2 separate regions of the Homo sapiens genome follow, and region 2 is linked to region 1. Evidence: fine-mapped expression QTL. A gene starts in region 1. The other region holds a variant in brackets. All regions are shown on one strand. Distances are between the middles of the regions.

Region 1 (5,112 bases):
GGGAGGCCAAGGCAGGTGCAATCACTTGAGGTCGGGAGTTCACAACCAGCCTGGCCATTGTGGTGAAACCCCATCTCCATCAAAAATATACAAAAATTAACTGGGCGTGATGGTGGGCGCCTGTGGTCCCAGCTACTTGGGAGGCTGAGGCAGGAGAATGGCATGAACCCGGGAGGCGGAGCTTGCAGTGAGCCGAGATGGTGCCACTGCACTCCAGGCTGGGCGACAGTGAGACTCCATCTCAATAAAAAAGAAAAAAAAGAGGGGACACAGATACCCAAGCCAGCCCAGAAGTCGGGGCAGAGCCAGCCACTGTCCTGGGAGGCCTGTGAATGAGCCCCTGTGGGAACAGGACGTGTCACTTCCTAGCGACTCAGGAGCCCTGACAGCCAGGACAGACCCCTGGTGCCCACAGACAGGACAGGGGTCATGGAGGACCTCCCGCCATCACTGCTGACTCACCCCTGCTAGCGGCCGGGGGAGGAAGCCCTAGCGGGTACCTCCGGTGAGCTCATGCCAGCCTGCCCGCTCCCCACGGCATTCCCGGGGCCGCACGTCACAGGCTGGCAGGAGCCTATGGGCCTGCAGTAAGGGCGGAGGAGGCCACTCAGACAGCAGAGGGGTAGGGGCTCAGACAGGCCCCAGCTCAGCCCCTTCCTAAGCTCTCCAGGCCTGTTTACGGTCTGTTAAAGGGCAGCCCTTCCTTCATCCTGGCCGGGGTGGGGAGAATGGAGCGTGGAGGCAGGTGGAGCCTGGCAGACTGGGAGGGTTTTTCCTGGACAGGCGACCCACACCAACCTGAGGGGGCAGCACAGACAGGCTATGCCCCTCCCCAGATGCCCCGTGCCCGCCCGACCTGCAGCAGTGGGCAAGCTGTGAGCATGGGGAAGCCAGGGAGGGCGTGGGGTGCAGACAGCAGCTGAGCGCCCTGGGCCACGTTTCCAGACAGCACAGCCAGGTCTGGACTTTCGCCGCCCCGCCTGCTCTGCCCCACCCTGGCCAGCACTCACCAGCCGGGCTGGAAACGACTCCTCTGCAGGACAGGTGGACAGAAGCTCCCCAGGACTCTAGGCTAGAGGGGCAAGGACATGTCAGGTCACAGGTTACAGGTCTGGCCCAAGGGCCAGAGTGGGCCGGGTTCATTCTGGAGGCAGAGAGAGGAGTGGCCAAGCCCGGTATTTTAGTCTGGGCTAGGGTGGGGCAAGGCACAAGACATTTTGTTTTTTTCTTTTTTTCTTTTTTTGAGATGGAGTTTCGCTCTGTCACCCAGGCTGGAGTGCAATGGCACGATCTCAGCTCACTGCAACCTCCGCCTCCTGAGTTCAAGCAATTCTCCTGCCTCAGCCTCCTGAGTCACTGGGATTACAGGCACCCACCACCACGCCCAGCTAATGTTTGTATTTTTAGTACAGACAGAGTTTCACCATGTGGACCAGGCTGGTCTCGAACTCCTGACCTTAGATGTTCCACCCGCCTTGGCCTCCCAAGGCAGACGACATTTCGGGACAGTCTGATCCTGGGAGGGACCTCATACCTTCCCCCAGGTGCCCCACTCTTGGCCTTCGCTCCAGACCCATCACTGGCCCTTCCCCCACAAACAGCGGCAGCTACAGCCTGGGAAAGAGGCATCATGGAATGGAGCTGGAGGGGGACAGACCTTACCACTGAGCTGAGAGGGGATATTCACCCTCCATGAAGGAGCCAGGGCCTAAATACACGCAGGAAGGGTGGCACAGGCAGACCCTGCCACCAGCGGGGGGATGTGTCTGCCACCGGGGGGCGGGGTGTGCGTCTGCCACCGATGGGGGGATGTGTGAGCCCCTCAAGGACCTGCCCCTGGCCTGGCTGTAAGGTCCCAGGCTTTCTGGAGAAGTTGGTTCTGGGCACAGATGCGTCCTCCACCGCGAGGACACAGGCGACCCGCTGAGGAGTGGCCCCTCTTCCCAGGAATGCCTGGTCCCTCTGGACCCCCTGGGAAAGGGCCTTCCAGAAATAGTTGTCTGTTCCTCCCCAAGTCCCCGGGACCTGCACCAGGCCCCTGGGCGGCCCGCGCCCTATCAGGGGGAGCCCCAGTCAGGGGGACCTGGGACTCCGCGCCTGCCAAGCGTCCCCGGGGCACTGCAATGAGGTCACCGCCGCCGCCGACCCCGCCCGGCGCGGCCAATGGCGCGCCCACTTGCACGCGGGCGGGGGCTGCTGCGGGCGGAGGGAAGACTGCCGTGTCCAGGGACAATGAGCAGGGTGTCCAGGCTGCGCGTCCCGGGACCCCTGGGCTGAAGGGGGCCGTCAGGCCGGTCCAAGGGCCCGGGAGGCGCCTCTCCTTCCCGCTGCGCCTCCCCAACCCGCCCGGAGTCCGCCTCCCGCGGAAGGGCAGGCGAGGGAGCTGGGGCAGGCGAGGGAGCTGGGCCAGGCGGTGGGTGCGGCCTCCCGGAACCTCCCGGCGCCTGCGGCTGGGCCTCCGGGGCTGGGGCGCGCAGGGCCTTCGGCCCCCTCGCGCCCCTCGCCCCCCTCGCGCCCCTCGCCCCCCTCGCCCCGCTCGCCCCGCTCGGCCGAGCTGTCGTGGCCGCGCACTCACCTACCACGCGTCCGAGTCCGGGCCCTGGCGGCGGCGGCAGCAGCTGCGGGGGCGGCGGCTCCCAGCGCTGAGAATGCGCGGCCCGGAGCCTACGAGGGGGACGCCCCGCCCCGCCCCGCCCCGGCCCCGCCCCGGCCTCAAGCCCCTCCCGCGGCGGCGGGCGCTCGGCAGGTCTGAACCCGCGTGGGTGTAGGCGCTGGGGGTCGACCTGGCACTGCGGAGGCCGGGCGAGCTGCAGCCCTGGGGGCGCCAATAGCCCAGCAAGGGCCCATCCCGTCCAAGGACGGAGGAGCTGGGCGGGAGGCGGGCCCGGAGGTAAGACGGCGACCAGCCTAGCCAGAGGCCCTGGGCTGTGGCGACCCGGCCCTCCTCCATGCCCAACCCCCATCTCTTTCTCCTCACCCAGGAACCGCCCAGAGGCTGCAGGGGTCGGCAGAACCGATGCCGGCCTGGGGCGTGGGAGGGCCTAGCGCTGTGGGCAAATGCGGGAGAAGGGCTACTGTACGTGCAGTGTGGACAGCCTGGAGACCCGGGCAGGCCTGGGGTCCCAGCGAGACATACCCATGGGGTCCTGGGGGGCCCATGCCCTCCAGACTGGAAGGGACCACTGGGAGCGGTGCGAGGAGGTGAGGGACGAAGGGCAGGGCCGGCCTAGGGCTGCACCAAGACGCCAAGAGTGGGAGTGAGGAAGGAGGGGGCTGCCCACCCACCAAGCTCATTCATCACAGCCACAGGGGAGGACCAGCATGGGAGGGGGTGGCCGACTGAGGCCGGGAACCTGCCCGGCCTCCCTGGCGAGACAGTGGGGAGCCCTGATCCACACACTGGCGAGGGCCCCGAGGGGCTCCAGCCTTGATGGGTAGTGTGAGTTTGGGGCATGACCAGGGACACAAGAGGACACGCAGGACCTCAGCCCCATCGCCACAGGCCCGCGCTCCCTGTATTCACCCACACAGCACGCGTGCACAGGTGCCCACCTCATCCATGTGGCACACACAGGCTGTGGCTCCCAGACACACGGAAGGCCCAGGAGGACGCAGTGCAGTCAGTGGGTTTTATTTGACGAGGGGGTTTTCTGCTGAACTGAGATGGGGTTGATTGAACGGGGACAGAGCGAAGACTGGCAGAGGGCACACACGGGACCCTGGCCACTCCCGGGACCCTGACCACTCCTAGGCTAGGTCCTTCATGTCTTCAGTCAGGCGAGCCTGGGGCCCACTGGGGAGAGCCTGCATCCTGAGTGGGCACCCCCGACCCATGACAAGCCTCCTGCAAGGGCAGCTTCTAGCTCATGGTCCGTGAGTCACTCGGGGCTGGTCACCGGGCACTGGGAAGGTGGCCAGAGCCGCGTCTGGGGGGCCGAGCCCAGCAACAGCAGCAGCAGCAGGTGGGCCCAGGCAGGCGGGCTGTTGTCAGAGCCTTCCTGCAGCTGCTGCCCGCCCGCCTGGCCTCGCAGGCGTCCCTGTCATCCCGCAGCCGTGTATTCAGCTCCCTAGGGAAGGAGGAGTCCGACACTGAGAGGGTCTGAGGGAGCTCAAGGTGGGGGGAGGTGAGCTCCGACTCCCCTCAGAGCGAAGAGAGGTGTCTGGCTGAGGCTGCAGCGTGAGGGGTGAAAGGCAGGCATAAGGAAGGACTTCCAATGGAGTAGAGCGGCAGCCAAGAATGTTGGGGAGCTGGGAGCCCCCAAGCTCCGCTGAGCCCATTCCCTCTCGGGCCTGAGCCTGACCGTACCTGAGCAGCTCCAGTTGCCGTAGCAGGCTGACTTTCTCTTTCTGCATGTTCCTGGAGACGGCGACCACGTCTCTGTGGATGGGAGGTGGTGACCCGGCTGCAGGAAGGCTCCTTGGGGAGCCCCCGGACCCCCTAGAAGATCCTCCTTCCCACGGGGCGGGCCTGGGACTTGAGATGGGGATGAAAGTGGCCCAGACCTGAGCGCCCGTCGGCCCCGCCCCCGGGACACGCACCGGGGCCCGCCCAGCCCCGTCCCACGGCACCGTTGGGTTTGCTCCTGGCGGCCTCGTGCTTCGCTCTCCAGCCTGCGGATCTGCTCCTGCGCCCCCTCCAGCTGCGTTCGCAGCGCCTCGTGCGCCCGCCACAGCTGGGAGTTCTGGGCCTGTGCCTCCAGGTGCTCCGCAGCCTGGGCGTGCAGCTGCTGCTCTAACTGGAGGGTGGAAGGATGGAGACCGGCGAGGAACGCCCCCTCTTCCCCGGGGTGCTGCGCGTGCCCCAGGCTCCCGACAACCCGGGGACGCTAAGGCACAGGGGGAGAGTGCACGGGTGACCGTGGGGACAGGGCAGGGGCCGGGTGCTCACCTCCCGCTGCCGCAGGCCCGCGCGTTCCAGGTCCTGCTCGCGGCTCTGCAGCTCCAGCTCCAGACGGCTTCTCCGCTCCCCGCGGGCGAAGTTCTGGGACGCACGGAGGACCACTGAGCCTCCGCCGGCCGCTCGGCCATGCAAAAGAGGTACACGGAGGGCCAGGGGCTGGGAGTGGGCCCGGGCGGAGCGGGGTCGGGTGGAGAAGACCGGACGGGGGTGAT
Region 2 (5,504 bases), 25 kb before region 1:
CTGTGTTTCCTAAGTGCTTGTTCTTATAAAAATCAATTAAAACAGGAAGAGGCAGGGGGAGACGAGGGGGTGCTGCGCCCAGAGAGAGGGTGCTAGGCTGCTGGCCCAGCAAGGCCTCAAGGGAAGCAGGGGTCCGCCAGGACCCCACCTTCAGACAGAGGCCTCGGGCTTGGGCCGTTTCAGGATGAGACGGGAGATATGTTCCAGGCCTGGGCACGGGACAAGCAGTCCCCCGAAAATGCTGACCAGCTCCCGGTCTGCAGCGTGGGTGCCCAGGTGGGTGGTGGGTAGACGTCCTGGGGTGCCGACGGTTGACTGGTTCTGGGGAAGGGCCGCGCAGCCCTGGGGGATCCCTGCCCCACCCTGGACTGGACAGGACTTGGGAATGGGCTGGCAAAGCCACCCCTCAACCTGATGAAACCCCTTGGAGCACCCAGACCACATGCCTGAGGACAGGCTCAGACCCCAGGCTCTGGGGGTTCCCGGGGGACTACCAGAAGCCCCAAGTCACCCCATAAAAGCCTCCCAAGCCCCAGTGGCCAGACTCACACCCCACTTTCCAGACAGAAACCAAGGCTGGGATAGCTGCTGGCCACCAGCAGCCGCCCCACCCCCACCTGCAACACCAGCCCAGCTCAAGACAGGCCTGGGGCCTCCACCCTGGCAGGGCCCACGGAGGGCCCATGAGCCCCAACACTCTTGCCTCAGGGGGCCTGGGGGTGGGAGATGCCCCCTCCTCGTGTGCACGCTCACCTGCCCCTCCCTGAGCAGTGCATCAGCCAGCGCCAGGCTGGAGGTTGGAGGCCGCCACCCTTTTACTGGCTGGCTGGCAGGCAGGAGGCTGTGCTGGGGAGATGGGACACAGCTCCCTGCCCAAGGGCCAGCATGGCTGCTGGTGCCCCAAGATTCAGGCCAGGCCTGTCACTGGTGTCTTCGGTCCCTCTGGGCTCCACAGGGTAAAATCCCCTCAGAGCAGATTCCCCCCACTGCTGGGGCCCCACAAGTCCCACACACGCTCAGGCCATCCTGGGGAGAAGGCAGGCTCTGTCCTTCCCCGGCCTTCCAGAGGTAGCATCTCCGCTTAAAGTTCAAAACAGAACGCTGTCCGGAGGCTGCCAGCGCAGGACCTATCTTGGGAAGCTCTGCTGAGCCATTGGCTCCTGGTGCCTGCTGAGCTCTGACACCCACGCCCAGAGCCCCTCCCCAGCAGGCCAGGCACAGCGCACAGGGGAGCTGGACAGACTGGGTGCAGGAAGAGGGGTCACCCCTGTGCTCTGGGCCCCAGGATTGGGAGTACCGAGGCAGGGGCTGACTTGCTGGCTCTGACCACACAGCCCCTCGTGGCTGCAGGGAGCCAATAGGAGACCTGGGCACAGTGCCCAGCCTGGGTGTGGCTTCTGAGCAAAGCCAGCCCCAGAAGCAGCTTAGGGTGATAGGGGAGGCTTCCCAGGAGACCAGGAAGAGGCTTGGGGGTGGCAGCCAGCACAGCCCGGTGGAGGGCGGCCCGGAGACGCACCAGGGGACGGATGCATGAACCTGAGACGTGTGAGTCAAGTTGTGTGTGAGCCCGGGATGCATGGGAGCTGGGGTGCATGTGAGCAGGGGTACATGGGAGCTGGGGTGCGTGTGGGCCCGGGGTGCATGAGTGAGGGTGTGTGTGAGCCGGAGTGCATGTGGGCCCGGGGTGCGTGTAAGAGGGGGTGCGTGTGAGCCCGGGGTGCGTGTGAGCCCGGGGTGCGTGTGAGCCCGGGGTGCGTGTGAGGGGGGTGCGTGTGAGCCGGGGTGCGTGTGAGAGGGGGTGCGTGTGAGCCGGGGTGCATGTGAGCCCGGGGTGCGTGTGAAAGGGGGGGTGCGTGTGAGCCCGGGGTGCGTGTGAGCCCGGGGTGCGTGTGAAAGGGGGGGTGCGTGTGAGCCGGGGTGCACGTGAGCCAAGGTGCGTGTGGGCCAGGGTGTGTGTGAGTGGGGGTGTGTGTGAGCGGGGATGAGTGTGGGCTGGGGGTGGGTGTGTGAGCCTGGGTGCATGTGAGGGGATGCGTGTGACCTGGGGTGCGTGTGAGCCGGGGTGCATGTGAGCCCAGGGGTGCGTGTGAGCCAGGGCACGTGTGAGCCCGGGGGTGCGTGTGAGCCGGGGTGCATGTGTGCCGGGGGTGCAAGCTGTTGGTGTGAGCCCGGGGGTGCGTGAGAGCTGGGGTGCATGTGAGCGGGGATGCGTGTGACCCAGGGGTGCGTGTGAGCCGGGGTGCATGTGTGCCGGGGGTGCAAGCTGTTGGGGGTGTGAGCCCGGGGGTGCGTGAGAGCTGGGGTGCGTGTGAGCGGGGATGCGTGTGACCCAGGGGTGCATGGGAGCCGGGGGTGCATGGGAGCCCAGGATGCGAGCCGGGGGTGCGTGTGAGCGGGGGTGGGAGGCGAGGTGCATGCAAGCGGGGGTGCATGTGAGCCGGGGTGCGTGTGAGCGGGCGTGAATGTGAGCCAGGTGCATGGGAGCCTGGGGTGTGTGGGAACCGGGGTGCATGTGAGCGGAGGTCCGTGGGAGCCTGGGGTGCGTGGGAACTGGGTGAGCAGGGTGTGTGAGCGGGGTG[C/TGTGAGCGGGGTGC]GTGTGGGCCGGAGTGCGTGTGAGCCGAAGTGCGTGTGAGCAGGGGTGCGTGTGAGCCGGGAGTGCATGTGAGCCTGGGGTGCATGGGAACCGGGGTGAGTGTCAGCGGGGGTGGGATCCGGGGTGCATGTGAGCCAGGGTGTGTGTGAGCCAGGGTGGATGTGTCTGGAGTGTGCAGGACCAGAGGCCAGCTCCGTGGCAGAAGTGCCAGGGGACATCCCTAATTAAGAGAATCTGTCCTCACTGGGAGCACTGGGCTTGGGGCACAGCCCCAGGGTGGGCAGGGGTCTGCCAGCTCTACAAAGATGCCCCCACTTCCCGGGGGACCTGGCCCTGCTATGGGATGCACCAGCAGCTGGGGGATGGGCTGTCCAGGGTGCTGACTGTGAACGCGGCGCCCCCACCCACCCCTTTGGAGAGGTGTCCCTCGTAACATTCTGGAGCACAGGAGAGGCCTGGACAGGCAATGGCCCACTCAATGGTCCCTCCAGACCGTCGGGCACAAGGTCACACACACCATGTACAGACAAGGCCATGCGGAACTGAGGGGCATTCCCGAGCACACAGGAACCCCAGCCTGCCCCTGGGCTGTCCCCATATCCTCCCGCAGTTCCCAGGTCTTGTGGAGGGGCAGACAGGGCACCAGGGGGACCCACAAACGGCCTGACACCATCACTGCCCCAAGAACTGGGCAGAGAAGGGATATGGCCCTGGGTCCAGATCACCAGGTGATGAGGGCAGGAGGTCAGAGGGAAACGAGGCCCCAGGAGAGGAGATGGCCATCAGCAGCTCAGAGTACATCCTGGCCTCAAGCGCCAAGCAACCCCACAAGTCTCATTCCAGACGAAATGCCCAGGCTGGGGGTGAAGGTCCCTGAACTGAGGGGAGGTGCTAGCACAACAGAGAAAACTGTCATTTAAAACCCAAACTGGGGCCGGGCGTGGTGGCTCACACCTGTAATCCCAGCACTTTGGAAGGCCGAGGCGGGCAGATCACGAGGTCAGGAGATGGAGACCATCCTGGCTAACACGGGGAAACCCCGTCTCTACTAAAAAATACAAAAAATTAGCTGGGCGTGGTGGCAGGCACCTGTAGTCGCAGCTACTCAGGAGGCTGAGGCAGGAGAATGGCGTGAACCCAGGAGGCGGAGCTTGCAGTGAGCAGACATCATGCCACTGCACTCCAGCCTGGGCGACAGAGTGAGACTCCGTCTCAAAAAAAAAAAAAAAAAAAACCCAAACTGCCTGCTCCATCTGCCTCTGCCTTCCAAGGACGCAGACCTCTCCTGTCATCAGGAAAATGAGCTGTTCCAAGCTCCCCTCGCCCCATGGGGATGTGTCGAAGGACACAGGGAGGACATGTGCAGAGTGACTGGTGCCATGCCAGGTGTGGGAAACCCCGTTCCATGGGGGCTGGGCAGGAAGGAACCCTACACCTCCAGCCCTGGGCCCCTCCCACAACTGCCCCAGCCCTGGTGGGAACTGATTTCCCTAATTAACACTCCACGAAACATCCTCACCTCCACCGGAGACGGCAGGAAAGAGACACCCACTGTCACCAGACGGGCTCGGTCACACACACTGTGACAGACAACAGCCCACGTTGCCACAGACGCCTCACACCATCACACGTGGCCACACGCGCGCGTTACCGCCCTGCAACCTGGCGTCCCCCGGGCCCCGAGGCCCCAGCGTGCTGGCAGACCCACACAGATAAAATGCGTGCACGTGGTTAATAAAATTACCTGCAATTTTGAAAGTGTTTCTGCATATGCAGCTTTTAAAACATTTTGGCAGGAAAATTATAGCCTCAAAGCGCAAGAGAAAATGGGCCCCATTAGCTTGGAGACAGAAAATCAAAAGCAGGATGAGCAGGGCTGAGGCCAGGAGGGCCAGGTCCCTCTGGTCAAATGCAGCCAGATGGGGAGCAGCTAGGGGTGTGGCTGGCAGCCTGCGCACCCTCCCAGGGTCCCACCCAGCATCTGGGCCTGGACCCGGAAACCAGAGGAGCTCCCTCCCCACACGCTCAATACAAATAGGAATAGGCTGAAAGCCTCCCTCCCTCACTGCTGCCCCGCCGCAGGCCAGACACAAGCTCAGGTGGGAGGTTGACCCCGCCCCATGACAGCTGGGGAGAGGAACCCTAGGAATGATGGCAGCTGGGGGAACAGCCCAGGAGAGGGGCTCCGTCCCAGACCTCTTCACCTCCAGTCAGCGGTGCCTGGGGCCTGTCCTTCTCCCAGACATCAGCTCACACTGTCCACTGCCCAGAACCTGTCCCCAGGACCTGCGTGAGACCATCTCTGGCCAATGTCCGTCCAGCATACCAGGCCCCAGGCTCAGTCCATCAGACACTCGCTCACCCTGATCTTCAGCAGCAACTGATGGCTCTGCCCAAGATTAGGAGCCCAAAAGGCTTGGAGGGCCGTCCCTCAGCACCCACCCAAGAGGCTCGGGGGGCCGTCCCCCAGCGCTGGGCGTGTGCAGGTGCTGCTGAGGCCCATGCATTCTCTGCTCTGCCCTTCTTTTCCAGTCTGGACAGCCCACCTGAGCCTCTTGGGCAGGTGCTGCGGGACGGCCCCCTTGAGCCTCCTGTAGGCCTTGGGCAGGGGTGCAGTCACTGGAGTCCATCGAGTATGCTCCCTCCGGGCCCACGGGGGCCACGCTGGCCAGCTCTCAGCCCTCAGCCCACTGCCCCTCTGGCCATGCGGCTTTGTGGCAGATGGCTGGGCTGCCAGCCACGTCCTTGGAATAGGATGGGGGGCTGGGTCCCTGCAGGGGCCAGGGCTCTGTCCAGACACAGGGATGCTAGCAGCCAGCACAGCCTCAGGACCCTCTGGGCTGGCGGGAACGTCCCCGTCATGGCTGGGATGCTGGTTTCCAGGGATGACAAGTCTGTCCACTTACAATCTGTGTGGCTCGCTGT

What was found. PIP is the estimated chance that this variant, and not a neighbour inherited with it, causes the effect.
Region 2: its variant is the best candidate, but not a certain one, in a credible set for the expression of CD151 in whole blood (INTERVAL, PIP 0.83).

Annotation. Positions count from the first base shown.
Region 1 is chr11:830,490-835,601 of GRCh38, reverse strand. It overlaps CD151 (CD151 molecule (Raph blood group)), which reads right to left and starts at 2,650. Exons shown (of 9, transcript NM_004357.5): 1 at 2,576-2,650; 2 at 1,011-1,072. CRACR2B (calcium release activated channel regulator 2B) reads right to left here. Exons shown (of 9, transcript NM_001286606.2): 6 at 4,889-4,981; 7 at 4,570-4,736; 8 at 4,307-4,378; 9 at 3,616-4,067. The coding sequence ends at 3,893. RefSeq lists enhancers at 714-1,253, 3,410-3,947, 3,948-4,487 and silencers at 2,085-2,314, 2,325-2,974, 4,827-5,112.
Region 2 is chr11:855,710-861,213 of GRCh38, reverse strand. The region is part of intron 3 of TSPAN4 (tetraspanin 4); the gene reads right to left. Among named protein-coding and RNA genes, the nearest start is that of TSPAN4, 16 kb to the right of the region's middle. RefSeq lists enhancers at 154-688, 689-1,221, 1,222-1,755, 1,756-2,289. The variant C/TGTGAGCGGGGTGC (reference allele first, on the strand shown) is at 2,580.